Linked DNA regions of Homo sapiens. The protein of the gene in region 1 interacts with the protein of each later gene in a pairwise test. Each region holds a gene or a part of one and is shown on either strand. Other genes may lie near its edges.

The links.
Region 2: the proteins of LARP4 (region 1) and CRX interact in binary tests that used the Homo sapiens proteins (3 or more experiments, as listed by UniProt).
Region 3: the proteins of LARP4 (region 1) and BHLHE40 interact in binary tests that used the Homo sapiens proteins (3 or more experiments, as listed by UniProt).

What each region holds. Positions count from the first base shown.
Region 1 is NC_000012.12:50,452,867-50,459,895, reverse strand, and holds part of LARP4 (la-related protein 4), read right to left. Parts: intron 6,437-7,029; coding exon 6,224-6,436; intron 5,583-6,223; coding exon 5,479-5,582; coding exon of another isoform or gene 5,475-5,478; exon of another isoform or gene 3,468-5,474; intron 3,326-3,467; exon of another isoform or gene 3,110-3,325; intron 1-3,109. UniProt on the Homo sapiens protein: RNA binding protein that binds to the poly-A tract of mRNA molecules. Associates with the 40S ribosomal subunit and with polysomes. Plays a role in the regulation of mRNA translation.
Region 2 is NC_000019.10:47,838,922-47,843,838, forward strand, and holds the end of CRX (cone-rod homeobox protein), read left to right. Parts: intron 1-398; coding exon 399-1,046; 3' UTR 1,047-4,403; downstream 4,404-4,917. UniProt on the Homo sapiens protein: Transcription factor that binds and transactivates the sequence 5'-TAATC[CA]-3' which is found upstream of several photoreceptor-specific genes, including the opsin genes.
Region 3 is NC_000003.12:4,975,205-4,982,450, forward strand, and holds the start of BHLHE40 (class E basic helix-loop-helix protein 40), read left to right. Parts: upstream 1-4,232; 5' UTR 4,233-4,514; coding exon 4,515-4,594; exon of another isoform or gene 4,595-4,757; coding exon 4,758-4,827; intron 4,828-5,096; coding exon 5,097-5,204; intron 5,205-6,187; coding exon 6,188-6,311; intron 6,312-7,246. UniProt on the Homo sapiens protein: Transcriptional repressor involved in the regulation of the circadian rhythm by negatively regulating the activity of the clock genes and clock-controlled genes.

The DNA.
Region 1 (7,029 bases):
AAGTGTCGGGATTACAGGCATGAGCCATCACACCTGGCCTATAACACCCTTTTTTTTTTTTTTTTTTTTTTTTGATACGGAGTCTTGCTCTGTCGCCAGGCTGGAGTGCAATGGCGCGATCTCAGGTCACTGCAACCTCCGCCTCCCGGGTTCAAGAGATTCTCCTGCCTCAGCCTCCCGAGTAGCTGGGACTATAGGCACGTGCCACCACACCTAGATAATTTTTGTATTTTTAGTAGAGATGGGGTTTCACCATGTTGGCCACGATGGTCTCGATCTCCTGACCTGGTGATCTGCTCACCTCGGCCTCCCAGAGTGCTGGGATTACAGGTGTGAGCCACCAGGCCCAGCTATGCATTCTTAATGGAAGCAAAACCACGCTAATGGGAGTAAAAACGGGGGCGAAGGAAGGGCAAAAAGTAATCATTTTATGTATAAAGCACAGATACATACATTACATACATACAGACATACAATAATCTGTAGTAGTAAATTTTCACAGGCAGAAACTAGGAGGAAAATGCCTAAAAAGGCTGTTTAGGGGAGTAATAATGAAGAGAGTAAGAAATATTGGAATATAATTAAAATCCTAGCCTCAGCCGGGCATGGTGGCTCACGCCTGTAATCCCAGAACTTTGGGAAGTGGAGACGGGCAGATCACCTGAGGTCAGGAGTTCTAGACCAGCCTGGCTAACATGGTGAATCCCCATCTCTACTAAAAATACAAAAATTAGCCTGGCATGGTGGCAAACACCTGTAATCCCAGCTATTCAGGAGGCTGAGGCAGGAGAATCTCTTGAACCCAGGAGGTGGAGTTTGCAGGGAGCCAAGATCACACCATTGCACTCCAGCCTGGGCAACAAAAACAAAACTCCGTCTCAAAAAACAAAACAAACAAAACCTAGCATCTTACTAAACATCCATCACCAAATGAGATTTATCAAAAGATCCATATGTAGGACAGCAAACTAGGAAAATACCAATGCACCCAATAGCATGGCATGACTGCATGAATTAAGGTATGCAATGTGGTTAAACCAACCAATCTGCTTTTAACAAAGGGAGTTTTTATCTTGGATGATGGGTATAAGCACCCAACTTCCTAAAAGCTTACAACAGATGAAGCTAAGGTTGACTAATATAAAAAGAATGTAGTTTAATCAGTAGCAAAAACACCTAAAATCTCAAGCAACTGAGGATCTTGGATCTACAGATTAAGAAGAGTGAGATTTATGTTTGGCCCATTATTTGCAGTTTATATATCTCAGTTTTTGTAATCTATTTTCATAGTTATAAACCAACAATATAAATCACATGTTGCCAATTCCTGACTCTAGGAATAAGGATTTAAAACCTCTTGAATAATTATAACCCCACCAATTAAACGTAAATTCCCACAGCATCTCTAGTTGTCCTGTTTTATTCTTTACAGACCATAAAAAATTACCATTATTAAAACTTAAAGTAGCTGGGTGTGGTGGCTCACACCTGTAATCCCAGCACTTTGGGAGGCCAAGGCGGGTGCATCACGAGGTCAAGAGATCAAGACCACCCTGGCCAACATGGTGAAACCCTCTGTCTCTAACTAAAAATACAAAAACAAACAAAAAACAAAAACAAACAAACAAAAACAAAGATAAAATTATCAGGCTGGGCGCAGTGGGCTCAGTGGCTCATATCTGTAACCCCAGCACTTTAAGAGGCTGAGGTGGGAGGATCATTGGAGCCCAGGAGTTTGAGACCAGCCTGCACAACATGGCAAAACCCTGTCTTTACAAAAAAAAAAATACAAAAACTTAGCTAGGCATGGTGGTATGCGCCTGTAGTCCCAGCTACTAGGAAGGCTGAGGTGGAGAATTGATTGGGCCTGGGAGGTCAAAACTACAGTGAGCCATGATCATGTTACTGCACTACAGCCTGGGTGACAGGGCAAAACACTGTCTTAAAAAAAAAAAAAAAAGTTGGGTTGAGTTTCACATAAAGTGACACTTTGCCATAGAATTACTTTATATTACAAACTAGATTTCTTAAATAGCAATGAAAATAGTATGTCACTTAACAAAAAGTAATTTTTTTTTTTTTTGAGAAAGGTCTGGCTGTGTCACCCAGGCTGGAGCGAGGTGGTGCGATCTCAGCTCATTACAACCTCTGCCTCCTGGGCTCAAGCTATCCTCCCACCTCAGTCTCCCAAGTAGCAGGGACTACAGGTGCACACCAGTATGCCTGGCTAATTTTTATATTGTCAGTAGAGACGAGGTTTCACTCTGTTGCCTAGGTTGGTCTCCAACTCATGAGATCAAGTGATCTGCCTGCCTTGGCTTCTCAATGTGTGGGGAATATAGGCATGAGCCACCCCACTGGCTATAAAAAGTAATTTTAAAAATAGTTAGGCCAGATGCGGTGGCTCACACCTATAATGCCAGCACTCTGGGAGGCCAAGGCGGGTAGATCACCTGAGGTCAGGAGTTCGAGACCAGCCTGGCCAACATGGTGAAACCCAGTTTCTACTAAAATACAAAAAATTAGCTGGGCGTGGTGGCATGCGTCTGTAATCTCAGCTAATTGGAAGGCTAAGGCAGGAGTATCGCTTGAACCCGGGAGACGGACGTTGCAGTGAGCCGAGATCCCGCCATTGCACTCCAGCCTGGACAACAAGAGCAAAACTCCGTCTTTAAAAAAAAAAAAAAAAAAAAAGGCCGGGTATGGTGGCTCATGCCTGTAATCCCAGGACTTTGGGAGGCCAAGCTGGGTGGATCACGAGGTCAAGAGATTGAGACCATCCTGGCCAACATGATGAAACCCCGTCTCTACTAAAAATACAACAATTAGCTAGCACATGCCTGTAGTCCCAGCTACTCAGAAGGCTGAGGCCAGAGAATTGCTTGAACTCGGGAAGCAGAGGTTGCAGTAAGCAGAGACTGCACCACTACACTACAGCCCGGTGACAGAGCACGACTCCGTCTCAAAAAAAAAAATTTATATTACCTGTTACATCTTGAAAATGAACTGATATGATAGATATGGTATTTGCATATGTTTAGAAAATGTCCTTCATCCAACTTTCACACTACATTTCAATATGCTTAAGGGACAACTTACTACATTTATACAGCCCTCAGATCTCATAATCTTACCCTTCACTGAGAGGGACTTAACAATCTCGATCCAGGCAAAAGAGAGAAAGAATGAAGAAAGAAAGAAGTGATAAAAGACAGAAAAGAGAAGTAAAGTGAAAGAAAGATAGTATGAAAGGTAGAAAAATGCCTGGATTTCTGAAAGTTAGTCCTATTCTCTCTAAGTAGGAATAGTGATCATCACTGGGCTGTCACAGGTTAATATAAAAATTGCAAAAGGCTCTCTAAAAAAGACTTTGTCCTTAGCTGTTAACATTAATAATAATAATAAATGCCTGGCAGTAGTCACTTTTTAGAAGTAGTCACTTTTTAGAAGCAAGAAGGAAACAAGGATTTGGGTTGCTGGTCCAGAAGGTCTTTATTTGCATTTTTAGAAAAAGTATTCACTAATTATTTCTGTAATTAAAAATTACCAACCTGTATTGGTCAAATATATGGAAAAGAACTGTACACAAGTGGTTTTAAGTAACATGCAAAAATGTACTAAACACACCATGTATTTTCAAAACCATAGGTATACTTCCTTATAAGTAAAGATAACTTGACTGTCATTCCTGGCTGTCACCAAAAAGATGCAACGGATAAAAGGTAACAATAAAGAAATAACCATGGAGCCAAGTAAAGTATTTCAGAGTCAAGCAACTGCAAATATCAGTACCTTTATTTTTTGGAGGGGGGAGCGGGGAGGGGTGAGAGGGCGTGGCTGCAGGGAATAACAGAGTCTCACCGTCACCCAGGCTGGAGTGCAGTGGTATGATCTCGGCTCACTGCAACCTGTGCTTCTCAGGCTCAAGCAATTCTCGTTCCTCAGCCTCCTGAGTAGTTGGGACTTCAGGCATGCACTACACCACCACGCCCAGCTAATTTTTGTATTTTTGGTAGAGATGATGTTTCGTCATATTGCCCAGGCTGCTCTTGAACTCCTGAGCTCAGATGATCCACCCACCTCAGCCTGTGTTTATGTTTAGTAGTAAAATTTTTCTAACACTTGAAAATGATCTTCAATTGCTTTAACCAATTGTGTCTGTCAAGAATAGTCCAAAAACTCTGACTATTAAAGAGTAGTACACAATGTTTCCAGTGAGAAGAATATTTTTTCATTCTGTTGGGGCTCATTTCTCCAGTAAAACAAGTTTCAGAAAAACCTGTCAAAAAAGGACTAAGTTCCTAGAAGTCATCTTGGAAAAACATACTCCAGATGGTCTCCTTTCCAAAAGAAATAATTAGAAGAATCGAATCTGGCAAAAGACTGTCACTGAAAATAAACCATTAGGAAAAACCCTCAAAAACCAAGAGTCTCACAAAACAGCAAACGAGAAGTAATAAATGTGAAACTATTAAATAAATCGAAATGACTATATGTCAGTCCTTTATTCTTTGGTTACTCATACTGTGTTAAAAGCCATAGTATCACGCCTGTAATCCTAGCAATTTGGGAGGCCAAGGTGGGAGGACTGCTTTGAGCCCAGGAGTTCAAGACCAGTCGTCCCAGGCAACATAAACAGACCCTGTCTCTACCCCCACAACAACAACAACAACAAGCCATAACATACACCAAATATTGAGATTATCTGTTGATGTCTACATAAAGAAAAATACCTCAGACATACATCTCAATCTTTATGATAGCATATAGTTTCTATGATTCTTAATAATTTATCCTGAACATAGTGCTTTAAGTGCGGGCTTTGGAGTTGAACTGCCTAGGTTCAAATCTTAGCTCTACCAATTACTAGCTGTGTGTTCTCAGACATGATATTTTACATCTCAGATTCCTTATCTGTAAAGTAGACATAAGTGCACCTATAAAGGGTTCTGAAAAAAGTAACTGATAAAATATGTAAAGCCCTTAGGAACAGAGTTTGTGATATTAAATGTGCAATAAATGTTAGCTACTGTCTGTTGTGCACTGTAGTTCTTGGGTGTCATTTCAAAAATCCTTTAAAAACCTGAATAACATACATCCCAACATTTATTACACAATTCAGTTAACAACATTTATATCTTCAAAGAATTCATTCTCTAAAATGCTACCCATTTAACATACTAAATGGAAATTAGTCACCAGATTTGTCAGAGACTGGTGTCATGAAATATTTTTTCTATTCTCTTTTATTATTAAAAAAAATCTGAATCCCAAGTCTGTTACATGCATTACCAACTCAAAGGTCAAAGTGTTTTTACGAATTCTAGATTAAACTGTTCATATACACTTAGTAAAAACAAAACAAACAAAAAATCCACCAAACCTTATTACTGAGCCTGACAACAAACATTGCTATTAATGCCTTAAGATCCATTAGGAATTGTTTAAAATACATTACAGCTATGGTTTTTATCTTACCGATTTTTTTGGAATGGTCGACCCATATTCATAGCAGCAGCATTTGTTTTATAAGATCCTGGCGAATTAAAGCCATTCACAAAACTACCATTGGGAAAGGGAGCCTAGAAAAAAATGTATGTTTAAACAATATTAATGGCAAAGGTAAAATCTGGTGTGAGGGTCACAAGAACCTTAATGAGCTTATGAATTTATCTTTTACAAGCCAAAAATATCTTAAAATATTTTACTGATTCATTTCTGCAATATTCACTTCAAGTACCACTGGATTTATGAACAATTCATAACTTAGTAAAGAATGTCTGGTCTGACATTTCGCAACACTAAAATGCATTTAAAATCACGCAAAAGTTATCCAGTCTCTTCTTTCAATTCACTCAGCAAATTTTATGGAATAAAATTATGCGCTCTAATAGCTCACCTCTTAGTCATATGCATTTATTTGGTATGGAGAATTAGATATCCATATCACTGTTTAAAAGCCAAAAAGTGGCCGGGCATAGTGGCTTGTAATCCTAGCATTTTGGGAGGCTGAGGCGGGTGGACTGCCTGAGCACAGGAGTTCGAGACCAGCCTGGGCAACATGGCAAAATTCCATCTCTACGAAAAATACAAAAAATAAAATAAAATAAAGGCCAAAAAGTCATCAATGTCAACATAAATGAGCTCCCACTCCAACTGATTTCTTCAAATTTCAGCTCAAATTAAAAATATTATTATATTTTATTGTAAGGATCTCACTTACCAGTGGTGTTTCAAAGTAAGGTGTAGGATTTGGAGACCAAGACTGAGGCACAATACTATAGACCGAGTACTGTTGGTGAGGATTATATACAGGCTGCATAAAGACTGGGGAGGCATACTGTGCTTGAGTTTGAATGGGGTGACTATAGATACTAGAATCCATTAATCGATAACCATTCTTAGCAAAAAATGTATTGATGGCTTTTATCCTTGCCTAGAAGAGGAACACATTATAGCAACAAAGAATTAAGTGTATATTTTAAAAAATACATTTAATTTACATTTTAACATATATTTTACATGACTATACTATTTCTGCCTACAGTAGAATCAGTAGAGCAAAAGAAAAGAAAATGACAGCTTTAATTAATTAATAAATAATAAAAACGTTTTCATGGTATAAAAACCATAGTAAACAAGGTAAAACCCCCCCCGCCACACACAAACACACGTCAAAATAACCAGGTGTGCTGGCTCACACCTGTAACCTGAGCACTTTCAGAGGTCAAGGGGGTAGGATCGCATGAGCCCAGGAGTTCGAGGCCACCCTGGGTACCACAGTGAGACCCATCCCTTACAAGGAAAAAAAAAAAAAAAAAGCTGGGCATGGTGGCATGCAACCTGTAGTCCTAGCTGCTTGGGAGGCAGAGTGGGGAGGACTGCTTGAGCCAAGGAGCTGGAGGCTGCTGTGAGCTATGATCGCACTACCACACTCCAGCCTGGGCAACAGAGCGAGACCCTGTCTCTAAACAACAACAACAAGCAGAGTAAAAACCTCCCAAAAAACTAAGTCAAAACAGTAAATTG
Region 2 (4,917 bases), on another chromosome or scaffold:
ATGGTGTATATATGTATAACTGTACGTGTGCATGTTTGTATTAGATGGGTGGATGAATATGTGTATGATGTATGTATGATCATATCGATGGGTAAATGCAGGCATGATGTATGTGCGTATGGTGTATGCATGTATAATTGTACGTGTGCATGTTTGCATTAGACGGATGGGATGAATGCACATGGGTATGATGTATGCATGTGTTCATGCACACATGCAGGTATGATTGGATGGATAGATGGATGGATGGGTGAATAGACGCCCCACAGCTGGATGCAAAGTAGACAGATGTGAACCCAGCACCTCTCACCAATAAGTGTCCTCATCCCCGGGCACCCTGCGGCTCTCCTGGGCCTCTTCCCCACTTACCCACCCCCATCTCCGCTCTTATCCCCCAGGTTTGGTTCAAGAACCGGAGGGCTAAATGCAGGCAGCAGCGACAGCAGCAGAAACAGCAGCAGCAGCCCCCAGGGGGCCAGGCCAAGGCCCGGCCTGCCAAGAGGAAGGCGGGCACGTCCCCAAGACCCTCCACAGATGTGTGTCCAGACCCTCTGGGCATCTCAGATTCCTACAGTCCCCCTCTGCCCGGCCCCTCAGGCTCCCCAACCACGGCAGTGGCCACTGTGTCCATCTGGAGCCCAGCCTCAGAGTCCCCTTTGCCTGAGGCGCAGCGGGCTGGGCTGGTGGCCTCAGGGCCGTCTCTGACCTCCGCCCCCTATGCCATGACCTACGCCCCGGCCTCCGCTTTCTGCTCTTCCCCCTCCGCCTATGGGTCTCCGAGCTCCTATTTCAGCGGCCTAGACCCCTACCTTTCTCCCATGGTGCCCCAGCTAGGGGGCCCGGCTCTTAGCCCCCTCTCTGGCCCCTCCGTGGGACCTTCCCTGGCCCAGTCCCCCACCTCCCTATCAGGCCAGAGCTATGGCGCCTACAGCCCCGTGGATAGCTTGGAATTCAAGGACCCCACGGGCACCTGGAAATTCACCTACAATCCCATGGACCCTCTGGACTACAAGGATCAGAGTGCCTGGAAGTTTCAGATCTTGTAGAGGACGCAGTCTCCATCTCTCTCCATCGGGCCTCGGGACCCTTTCTCTTCTGAATCTGCTTCCCTGCAGTTTAGATCCCGGGATGGCATTCCTGAGAAAGCAACCCGAACCAGCTGTCCTTCTGACAGCTCGGTGTTCAGCTTACAGAGACCACCCCTTTCCTCCACAGGGAGAGGCTCCTCCCTCTCCTGGGACAGCTCACAGGTCCTAGTGATTCTCTCAACCCTAACACCGTCTGGCACGATTGTGACCGCTGAAGTACACCACGAGCTCCAGGCTTCAGAAAGTGGTGCTGAGAACTTGCTCCAAGAAGAAGTCAAACCAAACTTGCAGTTGATTTGGGGTCATGTTTAGGTCAGAATCACCGTGCCCTTGAACAAGCAGGTAGGGGGGCTTGATAACTTAACTTTCCACGTGGACAGAATTTTTTTTTTTGTTTTGTTTTTGTTTTGCAGACACAGTCTAGCTCTGTCGCCCAGGCTGGAGTGCAGTGGCACGATCTCAGCTCACTGCAAGCTCTACCTCCCGGGTTCACGCCATTCTCCTGCCTCAGCCTCCCGAGTAGCTGGGACTACAGATGCCCACCACCAGGCCCGGCTAATTTTTTTTGTATTTTTAGTAGAGACGGGGTTTCACCGTGTTAGCCAGGATGGTCTCGATCTCCTGACCTCGTGATCCGCCCGCCTCGGCCTCCCAAAGTGCTAGGATTACAGGCGTGAGCCACCGCGCCCGGCCCTTTTTTTTTTTTTTTTTTTTAATTGAGACGGAGTCTCACTCTTTTGCTTAGGCTGGAGTGCAGTGGTGTGATCTCAGCTCACTGACTGCAACCTCCACCTCCCGGGTTGAAGCGTTGCTCCTGCCTCAATCTCCCAATTAGCTGGGATTACAGGTGTGCTCCATCATGCCCGGCTAATTTTTCTATTATTAGTAGAGACAGGGTTTTACCATGTTGGCCAGGCTGGTCTGGAACCCCTGACCTCAAGTGATCCGCCTGCCTCGGCCTCCCAAAGTGCTGGGATTACAGGCATGAGCCATTGTGCCTGGCCCTACACGTGGACACTTCTTTAGCATATGGTTAGGGACCTTTCTAGAAATTCCAAAGACAGACTTTAAGAAGCCCCGTCGGGAAACCTTAGGCCAATGATGTGGTTACATTAAAAATAAATTATCTGGGAATTTCACAGACTTCACAAATGTCAGGCTTACATGGTAGGTTTAGGGGACCGTTTGAGAGACAAAGATCTACATTCATATATGTAGCTATACATATATGTACTTTTTCTTCTTAGTTTCTTTTTAAAGACATTTTATCACTCATTCGCTCATTAGCACATTGGGAATGTGTGTATTTGGTAGGGAAATGAAAGGCACCTTGCCTGTTCCATCTCTACTCCTTTTTTCTTTTGTTTTAGGATTTTCTAAAGGTGAGACACTGGTGGAACTGGGGTAGCTGCTTGGGACGTACCACCTATAGTTGTGGCTATTTCACAGAGAAGCAGCAGCTAGACAGACTCCCATCTGTAAATAAACAAGAGATAGGAAGAGGGGGAAATAGATTTGGAGGAGGCAGCCCTACATTTCAAACATACATTCCCTTTTTTAGATTTTTTTTTTTTTTTTTTTGGTTTTCAGTTTTGATGGTGGGATTGGAAAATAGAGCTTGGCTTGAGGACATTTTCCTGGGGTGGCACCATTATTTCTTGAAATAGAATCTTACTTATGGTGACACTGGCAAGCACTTGTGAGAACCTGAAGACGGATTGAGGTCATTTGATGCTCAGAAGTTGGGTGCTGGGTCCCTGCCTTCTCAGTCCGAGTTCTCCTTTCATTTTTGGGTGGGGAGGCGGGTTCCAAGAGCCCTTCATTGGTGGAGTTCACAAGGCAAGGTGTAAAAAAAAAAGTAGGGCAGGAAGACAGTGGTGTGCTGGCAGAGGTCTAACAATGGGCTCTCCAAGGAAGAGGAAAAGGTTGGTTGTGGAGTGTTTGTCAGTTTCCGTGGTGTAAATACTCCCACCACGGCTGACTTCAAGCTAGCAACCGGAGGTCACTGAACTAAGAGTTGGGAAGAGATAGGGCACAATATATGCTTACGAGTTGGTACACACCGTCAGCAGCAGCCAGGGTCAGGAGAAAGGCGAGATGTGAAGAGAGGCCGGGAGGTATCAGATGACGTTTCCAGCACTAGACCAGAAGAGGTGCACACAGCCTAGACCCCCTGAGGGGTACACCCTGATCTCTAGAGCCCACAAAGAGGTTTTTATTCAACATAAAACGTGTTCATCTCTCATAGGCCTGAGTCATGCTGGGTTCTGGGACATTAAGCCCAGGAGTGGGCCGGGTGCGGTGGCTCACGCCTGTAATCCCAGCACTTTGGGAGGCCGAGGCGGGTGGATCACCTGAGGTCAGGAGTTCGAGACCAGCCTGGCCAACATGGTGAAACCCTGTCTCTACTAATAATACAAAAATTAGCCGGGCATGGTGGCACGCGCCTGTAATCCCAGCTACTCGGGAGGCTGAGGCAGGAGAATTGCTGGAACCCGGGAGGCGGAGGTTGAAGAGAGCAGAGATTGTGCCACTGTGCTCTAGCCTGGGTCACAAGAGCGAAACTCCGTCTCAATAATAACAACAACAAAAATAACCCAGGAGTGGCTCAAGAGTCCAGTGTGGGATGAAAATATAAACAGAGGAAGACAACATATGTCACTGGGGAGGCTGGGGGAGCTAGACAAAATTCACACGGGAGGGGCAGGGATGAGACAATATTGTGCCCTGGGTCTGTGCAAACGTTGGGACCAGAATCCACTATAAGTTTCATTCTTCGGAGACACGGAAGCTCTGCACTGGAGGCCGGGACTCAGGCGTGGAAGAGAATCTTCTCCTTATTCACCGGGGAGGCTGTGTCTTGTGCAAACAAGTCATAGAAACTTGATGGGAGTTGGGGAGGGACTGAAGGATGCATGCAAGGTTCTGGGAAGGAGTGAGAAGTAGTGAAGGCCAAGGGGCCCCCATCACAGGCCGATGGGGTAAGACTTCGAGAGAGCCTGATCCTGGGGTCTTCTGAGACTCCACCAGGAGCCGGAGAGGGCAGGGAGCCAAATCCAGCTAGGAGGTTACAGATTGCTTTTCCTGGGCTGGGCTCCTGAGTGTTGGTTCTTCCAGCTGTGCACAGGGGATTTCAAACGTTCTACGTCCTAAAGCCAGGAAGAGTGACAAGGCAGGTGGGGACAGAAGGAAGAAGCCAGGAGCCTCCCTGAGAAGGTGTCACCTTATCTGTCCTCCTCTTCCCCACACACTGGCCTCTGGGTCCCCCTTCTCTGTCCACCCACAGAGTGAAACCAATTAAAATGTTGGATCTCATTTAAAGTCTGGGTGATTCTTTAGTTTCCGTGTTTTCTCCAGGAGGGGCAGGTAGAAACAGGAACTACTCTGTTCCTTCTGTCTGTGGGGCCTGGGTCCCTCCATGTGTTTCCTGTCTCATCACCCTCCTTTCCTTGACATCTCTCTAAAGCCAATTTATGAAGGATCAGGGGCTGGGTGCAGTGGCTCACGCATGTAATCCAGTGCTCTGAGAAGCTGAGGAGGGAAGATTGATTAAGGCCAGGAGTTTGAGACCAGCCCAGGCAACATAGCGAGATCTCTGTCTCTACAAAAAATTAAAAAAATCAACCGGGTGTGGTGATGTGTGCCTGTGGTCCCAGCTACTCGGGAGGCTGAGATGAGAGGATCGGTTGAGCCCAGGAGTTTGAGGCTGCAGGGAGCTATGATTGCACCACTGCACTCCAGCCTGGGTGATGCAACAAGAGACCCTGTCTCCAAAAACAAAAAATAAAAAAAAAAAAAAAAGAAGGAGGAGGAGGAACAGGGGTCCCCA
Region 3 (7,246 bases), on another chromosome or scaffold:
CCCAAAGTGCTAGGATTACAGGCGTGAGCCACTGTGCCCCACAGGCAAGTTTTTAAATTTCAGGTCATGATCCATTGGTGAGTGGTGAGATCAACTTAGTAAGTCATGACCTGAATACTTTTAATAAAACAGATGAGACTAAACTGGAAAGTATCAGAATGTATATAATAACAGTGAAATATTGTTCTGTGAAATTTTTGTCTGAAATGCATTGGATTGACTTTTTTTTTTTTTTTTTTTTTCCTGAGACGGAGTTTTGCTCTTGTTGCCCAAGGTGGAGTGCAATGGTGTGATCTCGGCTCACTCACTACAACCTCTGCCTCTTGGGTTCAAGCAGTTCTCCTATCTCAGCCTCCTAAGTAGCTGGGATAACAGGTGCCCGTCACTATGTCCGGCTGATTTTTGGTATTTTTAGTAAAGCTGGGGTTTTACCATGTTGGCCAGACTGGTCTCGAACTCCTGACCTCAGACGATCCGCCCGCCTTGGCCTCCCAAAGTGCTGGGATTACAGGCATGAGCCACCACACTCGGCCTGATTGACTTCTTTCTAAGTGGCTCAATTTTTTCTTTTTTCTTTTTTAAGAGAGCAATGGTTACTCAGGAGTATAGGAGAGAGGGTAGCGGTCACTTATTGCTATAGCCCAACCAAGCTTTGGCTGCCCTATGCTTAAATATACTTAAGATGTGTGTAAAGACATACGTGTGTGTATTGAGACATGATGTAAAATGTATTTCTTACCGTGAGCTGAGATAAAAATTTTTGAGGCTTCATAAGCAGGTAAAAAGTGATATCTGAGCAAGCAAGTTGTGGGGATGTATAGGGGAGCTTGGGGCTCTAAATTCTTGCACAGGAAGGGCCCGGGAGTTACTATAGATAGTAACAGTATAGACTCATTCAGCACACAGTGTAAGGCCACCAAGATGCTGAGTCCCAATAGGAAAGAAGAGAAAGATCCCATCTTTCTCTTGTACGAAATTATGTTCTCTCCCCACTTAGAAGAGACAAAACAGCAGGGACGGCTACAAAATGGCAGGATTACCCAGTGCAGCTGCTCAGTGCCACATTGCACAACTCCAGAGGGTGCTCTCACACAGACTGCAATGTGAATAGCTCCCCCTGGAGTTGAGCGGTGCACAACCCAAACAACCCTACCAGGCAACCGTAAGTATAGTGATTAAGAGCACAAGCTTTGGAGTCCAACAAACCTGGGGGCCTGTCTCAGACTGAATCCCAGACTATATAACCTGGGGCAGGTTATTTAGCCTCCTTGAGCCTCAATTTTCCAAACAGAATATGTTATACATCCCTAGGGCCTATTTCAGTGTCTGGCATTGAATAACAATAAACACGTGTCAAATGCATCGAGCTAATACTAGTACCTGCCTAAAAGGTGGTGGTGAGGAGCAAAGAAATTGACATACGAAAGGTTTTTAATATCTACAAAAGATGACAGACTGAAATAGTAACATTCTCCAGGATGGAAAGATCTATGCCACGTAGGAATTGTTTGTTCAAATTATTATTTTTTAAAAGCCATAAGCTATGGAGAGAATAACAGAGTTTTGTTTTGTTTTTTAATCCTGATACGGTGGAAGTCTGGTAGGATGGGAACCGTTCTTGAAGCTTGAGAATACATTCGGAACAAATAAAAAGTAGGAAATGCATACATTTTGTTATTTACAGTTGTAGGGCAGGTAAGGGCAAAACGTATTGATAAACTCAAAGAATTTTAAGAATGATATTGTCATGAGCCATGAGCCATGGAAGCTGCAAGGTTTGGGCTCCCTCCTGCCATCGGGTGGGGGGTGTCGGCGGAAGGGGGTACGTGTCCTGTCCTCTCCCAGTGCTTATTTCCTGCTGGAACCGTGGTTTTGACGCAGCCGTGACAGCCCTTCATCCTTATTAAAATCACACAATGAAGCAGGTCGCCCAAGATTGAAAGCGCGTTTCCAGGGCGGACCCCGGTCCCCGCCTTTGGCCAGCAAAAGTACATTCTGGCAGGGAGGGATCTCTGAGCCCCGAAGTGAGGTCATGCCAGTTAGCAGTTAGAAAAGGAGGCATTTCTCACACTTGCTAAAGAGTTTGACGCTTGTGAAATATAAACAGGAAGCGGGAGCTCTCCAAGGCGACCTGAAGGAAATACACTGCCAGTTTGGTCAACTTGTGAATGCCAGTTCTCTAGGTCGTCAAGGGCACTGCCAGTTAAGACTGATCCCCTAACTGCACCCGAGGCTACTACTCTTCGCCCAGTCTCGGCAGTGACCCCATTTTTTTTTCAATCCTTCCCACAGCCAGGTCACTCAGCAGTGGGGTGACTGACCCGAAGCGCAGTGGGAAGGGCTTACAGTCATCTCTCAACTCCCCGAACTTGCAGGGCAGGGGAGCGCAGAGGTCAGTGAAATCCCCAGCCAGGCCTTATTTTAGTCATGAGTTTCCACTGGCTCCCTCCTCTGACTGTATCAGCGCTGCTCACACCGCGGGATTGGAGTTTCAGCTGTTTTCCCTGCTCCCGGCTGAGTGAGAAGGTCACAGAGCCCGGACCTTTCCGGGGGAGGTGGGTGGGGCCCTCCGGCAGCCTAAGTGAGATTGCAGAGATCTGGGGCCGCTGGAGGAGGTCCTTCCGCCCCGGGCTTGGGGCTTTGGGTTAGCTTCTCCCCCGCTTCTCTACCTAGGCATCTCGGTTACAATGAAATTAAAAACAAAACACAAAGCAACACAAGTTCTCATTGTTTTTCCCCTCTGTCAGCCAGTGGCCTCGATACAATTTTCCCAGGGCTGCCTTTCCTTTATTGCTCAATTTAACCTCTTCCTAGAGGTTCTGCAAGTTCAAGGGCAGGATCCGTGTCGGATTCATCAACTAGTGCAGCGCCTAGTGCAGAGCAGGGGGCTCAAGAAATACGTGTCGACCGCATGATTGCTAAGATTTCCCTGTAACAGGCGGTTTTTTTTTCTTGTCTCTCTCATCCCTCCTGCCCTGGGTGCAGACCGCGAACAGCGCCGCCGAACTTCCCAACAGGCAGGGAGAGGGCCGATCCGGGCTGGCACGCCACGTCCCCGGGGTCTCAGTCCCTGGGTCAACGCAGAGAGGCTCGCGGTCCGCGGTGCTACGACCTGAGCCCGGCCACGTGAAGCGTCACGCCCTGCGCTGCTGCAGGGCAGGCGCCGCCGCCGCGGTTGTGTAACGCTGCAGCCGGAGGGGAGGCGACCGGGGCGCCTCTGCTCCGGAGGGGGCAGAGGAGGGAGGGAGCGCCGGGCACAGCGCCCGGTATCTTTCTGCGCTTGACTGGCCGGGAGGAAGGGGGTGACACTGGGGCACCCAGGGGGCTGCGCAACCGGGTGCCCGCCCGCCCGCAGGTTGTGCCCAGGAGCGGAGCTCCTGGGAGCGAGGGGCCCTCGGCTCACACCCTCCACGGTCAGGTGCGCGCGGCGTGCTCGGCGGCAGCCTCAGCTGCCCCTGCGCTTGGCCGTCGGCCCGCTTCCCATGGGGTGACATCCGCCCCGCCCCTCGGTCCCTCCCCAAGGCGGGCAATTCCTGGACGCGAGGGTGAGCAGTGGGGGCAGGGAAGCCAGGACGGAAAGAAACCCCAGCCTCTGGGGAAGGCTGGGGGGCCGGGCGACTCCCTCCGCAGCGCGCCGGTTCCTCCAAGCGGGCCGGGCGGGGGAGGAGGAAGAGGGCTGGGCTGGAGCTAGCAAGGGGATATTCCTCTCCCGGCTTGAGTCAGACGCGGGCGGATCCGTCCTCCCCCGTTCCCTCCCAGGAGACGGGAACTTACTTCATTTCCCTGGGGCAGGTTCGCCCACGTTACCAACTTCTCCCCCTCCCCCAGCACCCCCGTCCCTTCCAGCTTCCGCGCCCCCCACCCAACTGGGCAGGACCCAGGTCGTGCTGCCACCCCCTCTTCGGGGAAAGGCGGCCGCAGCCGCAGACACCTGGGGGCCGGGGCTGGGGGTGGGGGCTCCCTAGCAGCCGCCGGAGCGTTGTCCAACACGTGAGACTCATGTGATGAAGCCGGGGGAGGGCGGGCAGGTCGCTCCTTCCCTCCCCGGCAGTGGCCAGACGTGCCTGGAGTCACAGGGTAGAACACGTAGCTCCAACCCACCCACTCGCTCCCATTTAACCCAGCCCGCAGCCTCTCCATTACTCCTCGGCTTGCCCCCCCACCCCCCCACTCCGCCCTAACCGCCCCCCCCTCACCCGCTCCCTCCCGCCTCCCCGCCCGCCCCACTTCTCATTCACTTGGCTCGCACGGCGCAGACAGACCGCGCAGGGAGCACACACCGCCAGTCTGTGCGCTGAGTCGGAGCCAGAGGCCGCGGGGACACCGGGCCATGCACGCCCCCAACTGAAGCTGCATCTCAAAGCCGAAGATTCCAGCAGCCCAGGGGATTTCAAAGAGCTCAGACTCAGAGGAACATCTGCGGAGAGACCCCCGAAGCCCTCTCCAGGGCAGTCCTCATCCAGACGCTCCGCTAGTGCAGACAGGAGCGCGCAGTGGCCCCGGCTCGCCGCGCCATGGAGCGGATCCCCAGCGCGCAACCACCCCCCGCCTGCCTGCCCAAAGCACCGGGACTGGAGCACGGAGACCTACCAGGGTAAGTTGGCACTCCTTGGCCCTTCAAGCCTCAACTGCAGCCCCATGTTATGCGCCACTCTCAACTTGGAGCAGCTCCGGGCGCACCGGGAGGTTCTTGCCCGGCAGAACGCCTGCAGCCGTGCGCAAGCAGTCACGACCCTTCCTGGTCTCTCTTCCTGCAGGATGTACCCTGCCCACATGTACCAAGTGTACAAGTCAAGACGGGGAATAAAGCGGAGCGAGGACAGCAAGGTAAGCAAGTGCACCCCTAGGGACCCTGCGCTCAGCCCCTCGCGCGCGCTGAGTTTCCAAGAAAAGTTTTCTCGCTTTGAGGTTGGCGAGGGGATGCAGGGTGTGGGCTCGGTGCCTCTTCTGAGTGACTTGGAAAAGAAAGGGCAGACGATGGTTCTGGGTGCTACTCTGCTACTCTGCTCCTCTGCCGGACTGTTGCTGCGGGGCTGGGAGGATAGGCTTCTCATCTCCTTCCCCAAGCGCCCACCGCCTCCCCGTGCGTCTTGCAGGAGACCTACAAATTGCCGCACCGGCTCATCGAGAAAAAGAGACGTGACCGGATTAACGAGTGCATCGCCCAGCTGAAGGATCTCCTACCCGAACATCTCAAACTTACAGTAAGTGAGAAGCTGGCCCCTTTCCAACCCAGTCCTTTGCCCAGAGGGCGGGCGGGTCACTCGCCGCCTGCAGGTTCCGCGGGGAACTGCAGACCAGACTGGCGGATCAGAGCTGGCGGGTGGCTCTGCGGTGGGGTCCTCCTCCACAGTCCTGGCGTTTTCTGGCTGACTCATGCAAATGAGGCGAGAACCACTTGGACCTCTCCAAGTTGGCTCCAACACCAACTGGCCTTCCTTTTCAGGAGTTTAACTTCTGGTGATTTTCAGGATTCCCTAGTTTTTCTCACTTAAAGGAACACGCCAAGAAACACACACATTTTATTTACCCCTTCCCCTCTACCACTCCCCCCACCTTTTTTGTTGTTGTTGTCAAATAAGGGGACTTGCTTTGGTGTGTGATTTTTACGGCCTGTCCTTTCTTGACAGTAGCCCTCGGCTACTTCGCAGCCTTTGGTTGGGGAAATGGAAAAAAAAAAAATAGTATTTCGGGAGGAACAAAAAAGCCTGGATGAGCTGGAAGTTCTGAAAGGGTGTAAGGAAAGAAGTAGGGAAAGCCTCTTGGCTGCCAGACGTAATAGAGGTCCCTCTCTGAGTTGACACCACTGCAGGAAAATGTTATCTCTGGATTCCCCTGAGTTAAGGTCGGCAGAGGCTGCTGGAGAAATTTATCTGTCAAAGGATTTTCCTGAGGTAGTTGCAGCTTCCAAAATGCCTCCAAAGACAGGTGGCACCCGTTTTTTTAAATTATTTAATTATATATATATATTATATATATATACACACACACACACACACACACACACACACACATATATGAGTGTATCTGTCTATCTTTTTAAAAGCATGACCTACAGACTTAAAACAGCCAACCAGGAAACACTATTCCACTTTTTTTTTTCTTTTCTCATTTCTCATTGCTAATAAATGTCCCAAAGGTGGGACTTCTCTGACCTCACCGCTGACTAAGGCTCTTTTCCTTCCAGACTTTGGGTCACTTGGAAAAAGCAGTGGTTCTTGAACTTACCTTGAAGCATGTGAAAGCACTAACAAACCTAATTGATCAGCAGCAGCAGAAAATCATTGCCCTGCAGAGTGGTTTACAAGCTGGTGAGTGCTGATTCTGGCTATGCTCTCTTTAAGAGTTTGAGTGCAAATAGAGAGCCCGTGGGCTCAACATCTGATGTAATAAACATTACTGCAACAAATTGCTTATGCACGTTCATTGGGGGAGATGCAGTTTTATCTTTCCTAAAAGGTCAGACTTTTCATTTGAAATGCATTGTGCCACCTGGCATGAATACGTATTAGTGAAATGATAAGATATTCCTGTGGCATTTTAGCTTGAGAGTCTCTGGGTTCTGGGAGATTTCCCTACTCCCTTTTAAAATGCCAAGGCACCTATAATTTGCATTGTGGGTGTTTTACAGTTGGTCTTCTTAGCCCTCTTTCATTGGAGAAGAAATCATGGGTATGCCCCAGCGTTTTCCTGTTTCTTTGCTTCCTTGTCACTTGGTGTGTGGTGTGATCCTGGCAGGATACAGCAGGAGTTTTTCCTGCATTTCATGTGGTTCCCTGAATAGCCACTAGGTATCTTGGTGAATTGCACAATCTAGCGAAACCACTGAAGTTTCATCATTCGTTTCTACTGACTTCCAGATAATCGGAGTCAACCTTCTAACCTTCTAGTCTCACTTCTTCCAAATAATACTGTACAGACTGGGGAGAATTATTCTACCCACTCCCTCATTTCATGCTTGTCTGCCTTCCTCTCGAAGGCTCGTATGATGAAAATTGCAAAAACCCAGCTAGTGCTTCTGCCTGTTTCCTCATTCAAAATAGGAAGATGGTCATACCTAATGTCTTGAGGATCATGGATAGAATATGTGGAGAAGACATAGAAATAGCCTAATTAAAGGTCACAGCATGACTGCAACTTTTACAAATCATTGAAAATAAGTTTACTTTAGGTGATTGTTGTTTCTTCATTCTTTTCCTCATTTTATAACTATCCAGCCTCTGCCCATTTTGCCACGGTGCAATGT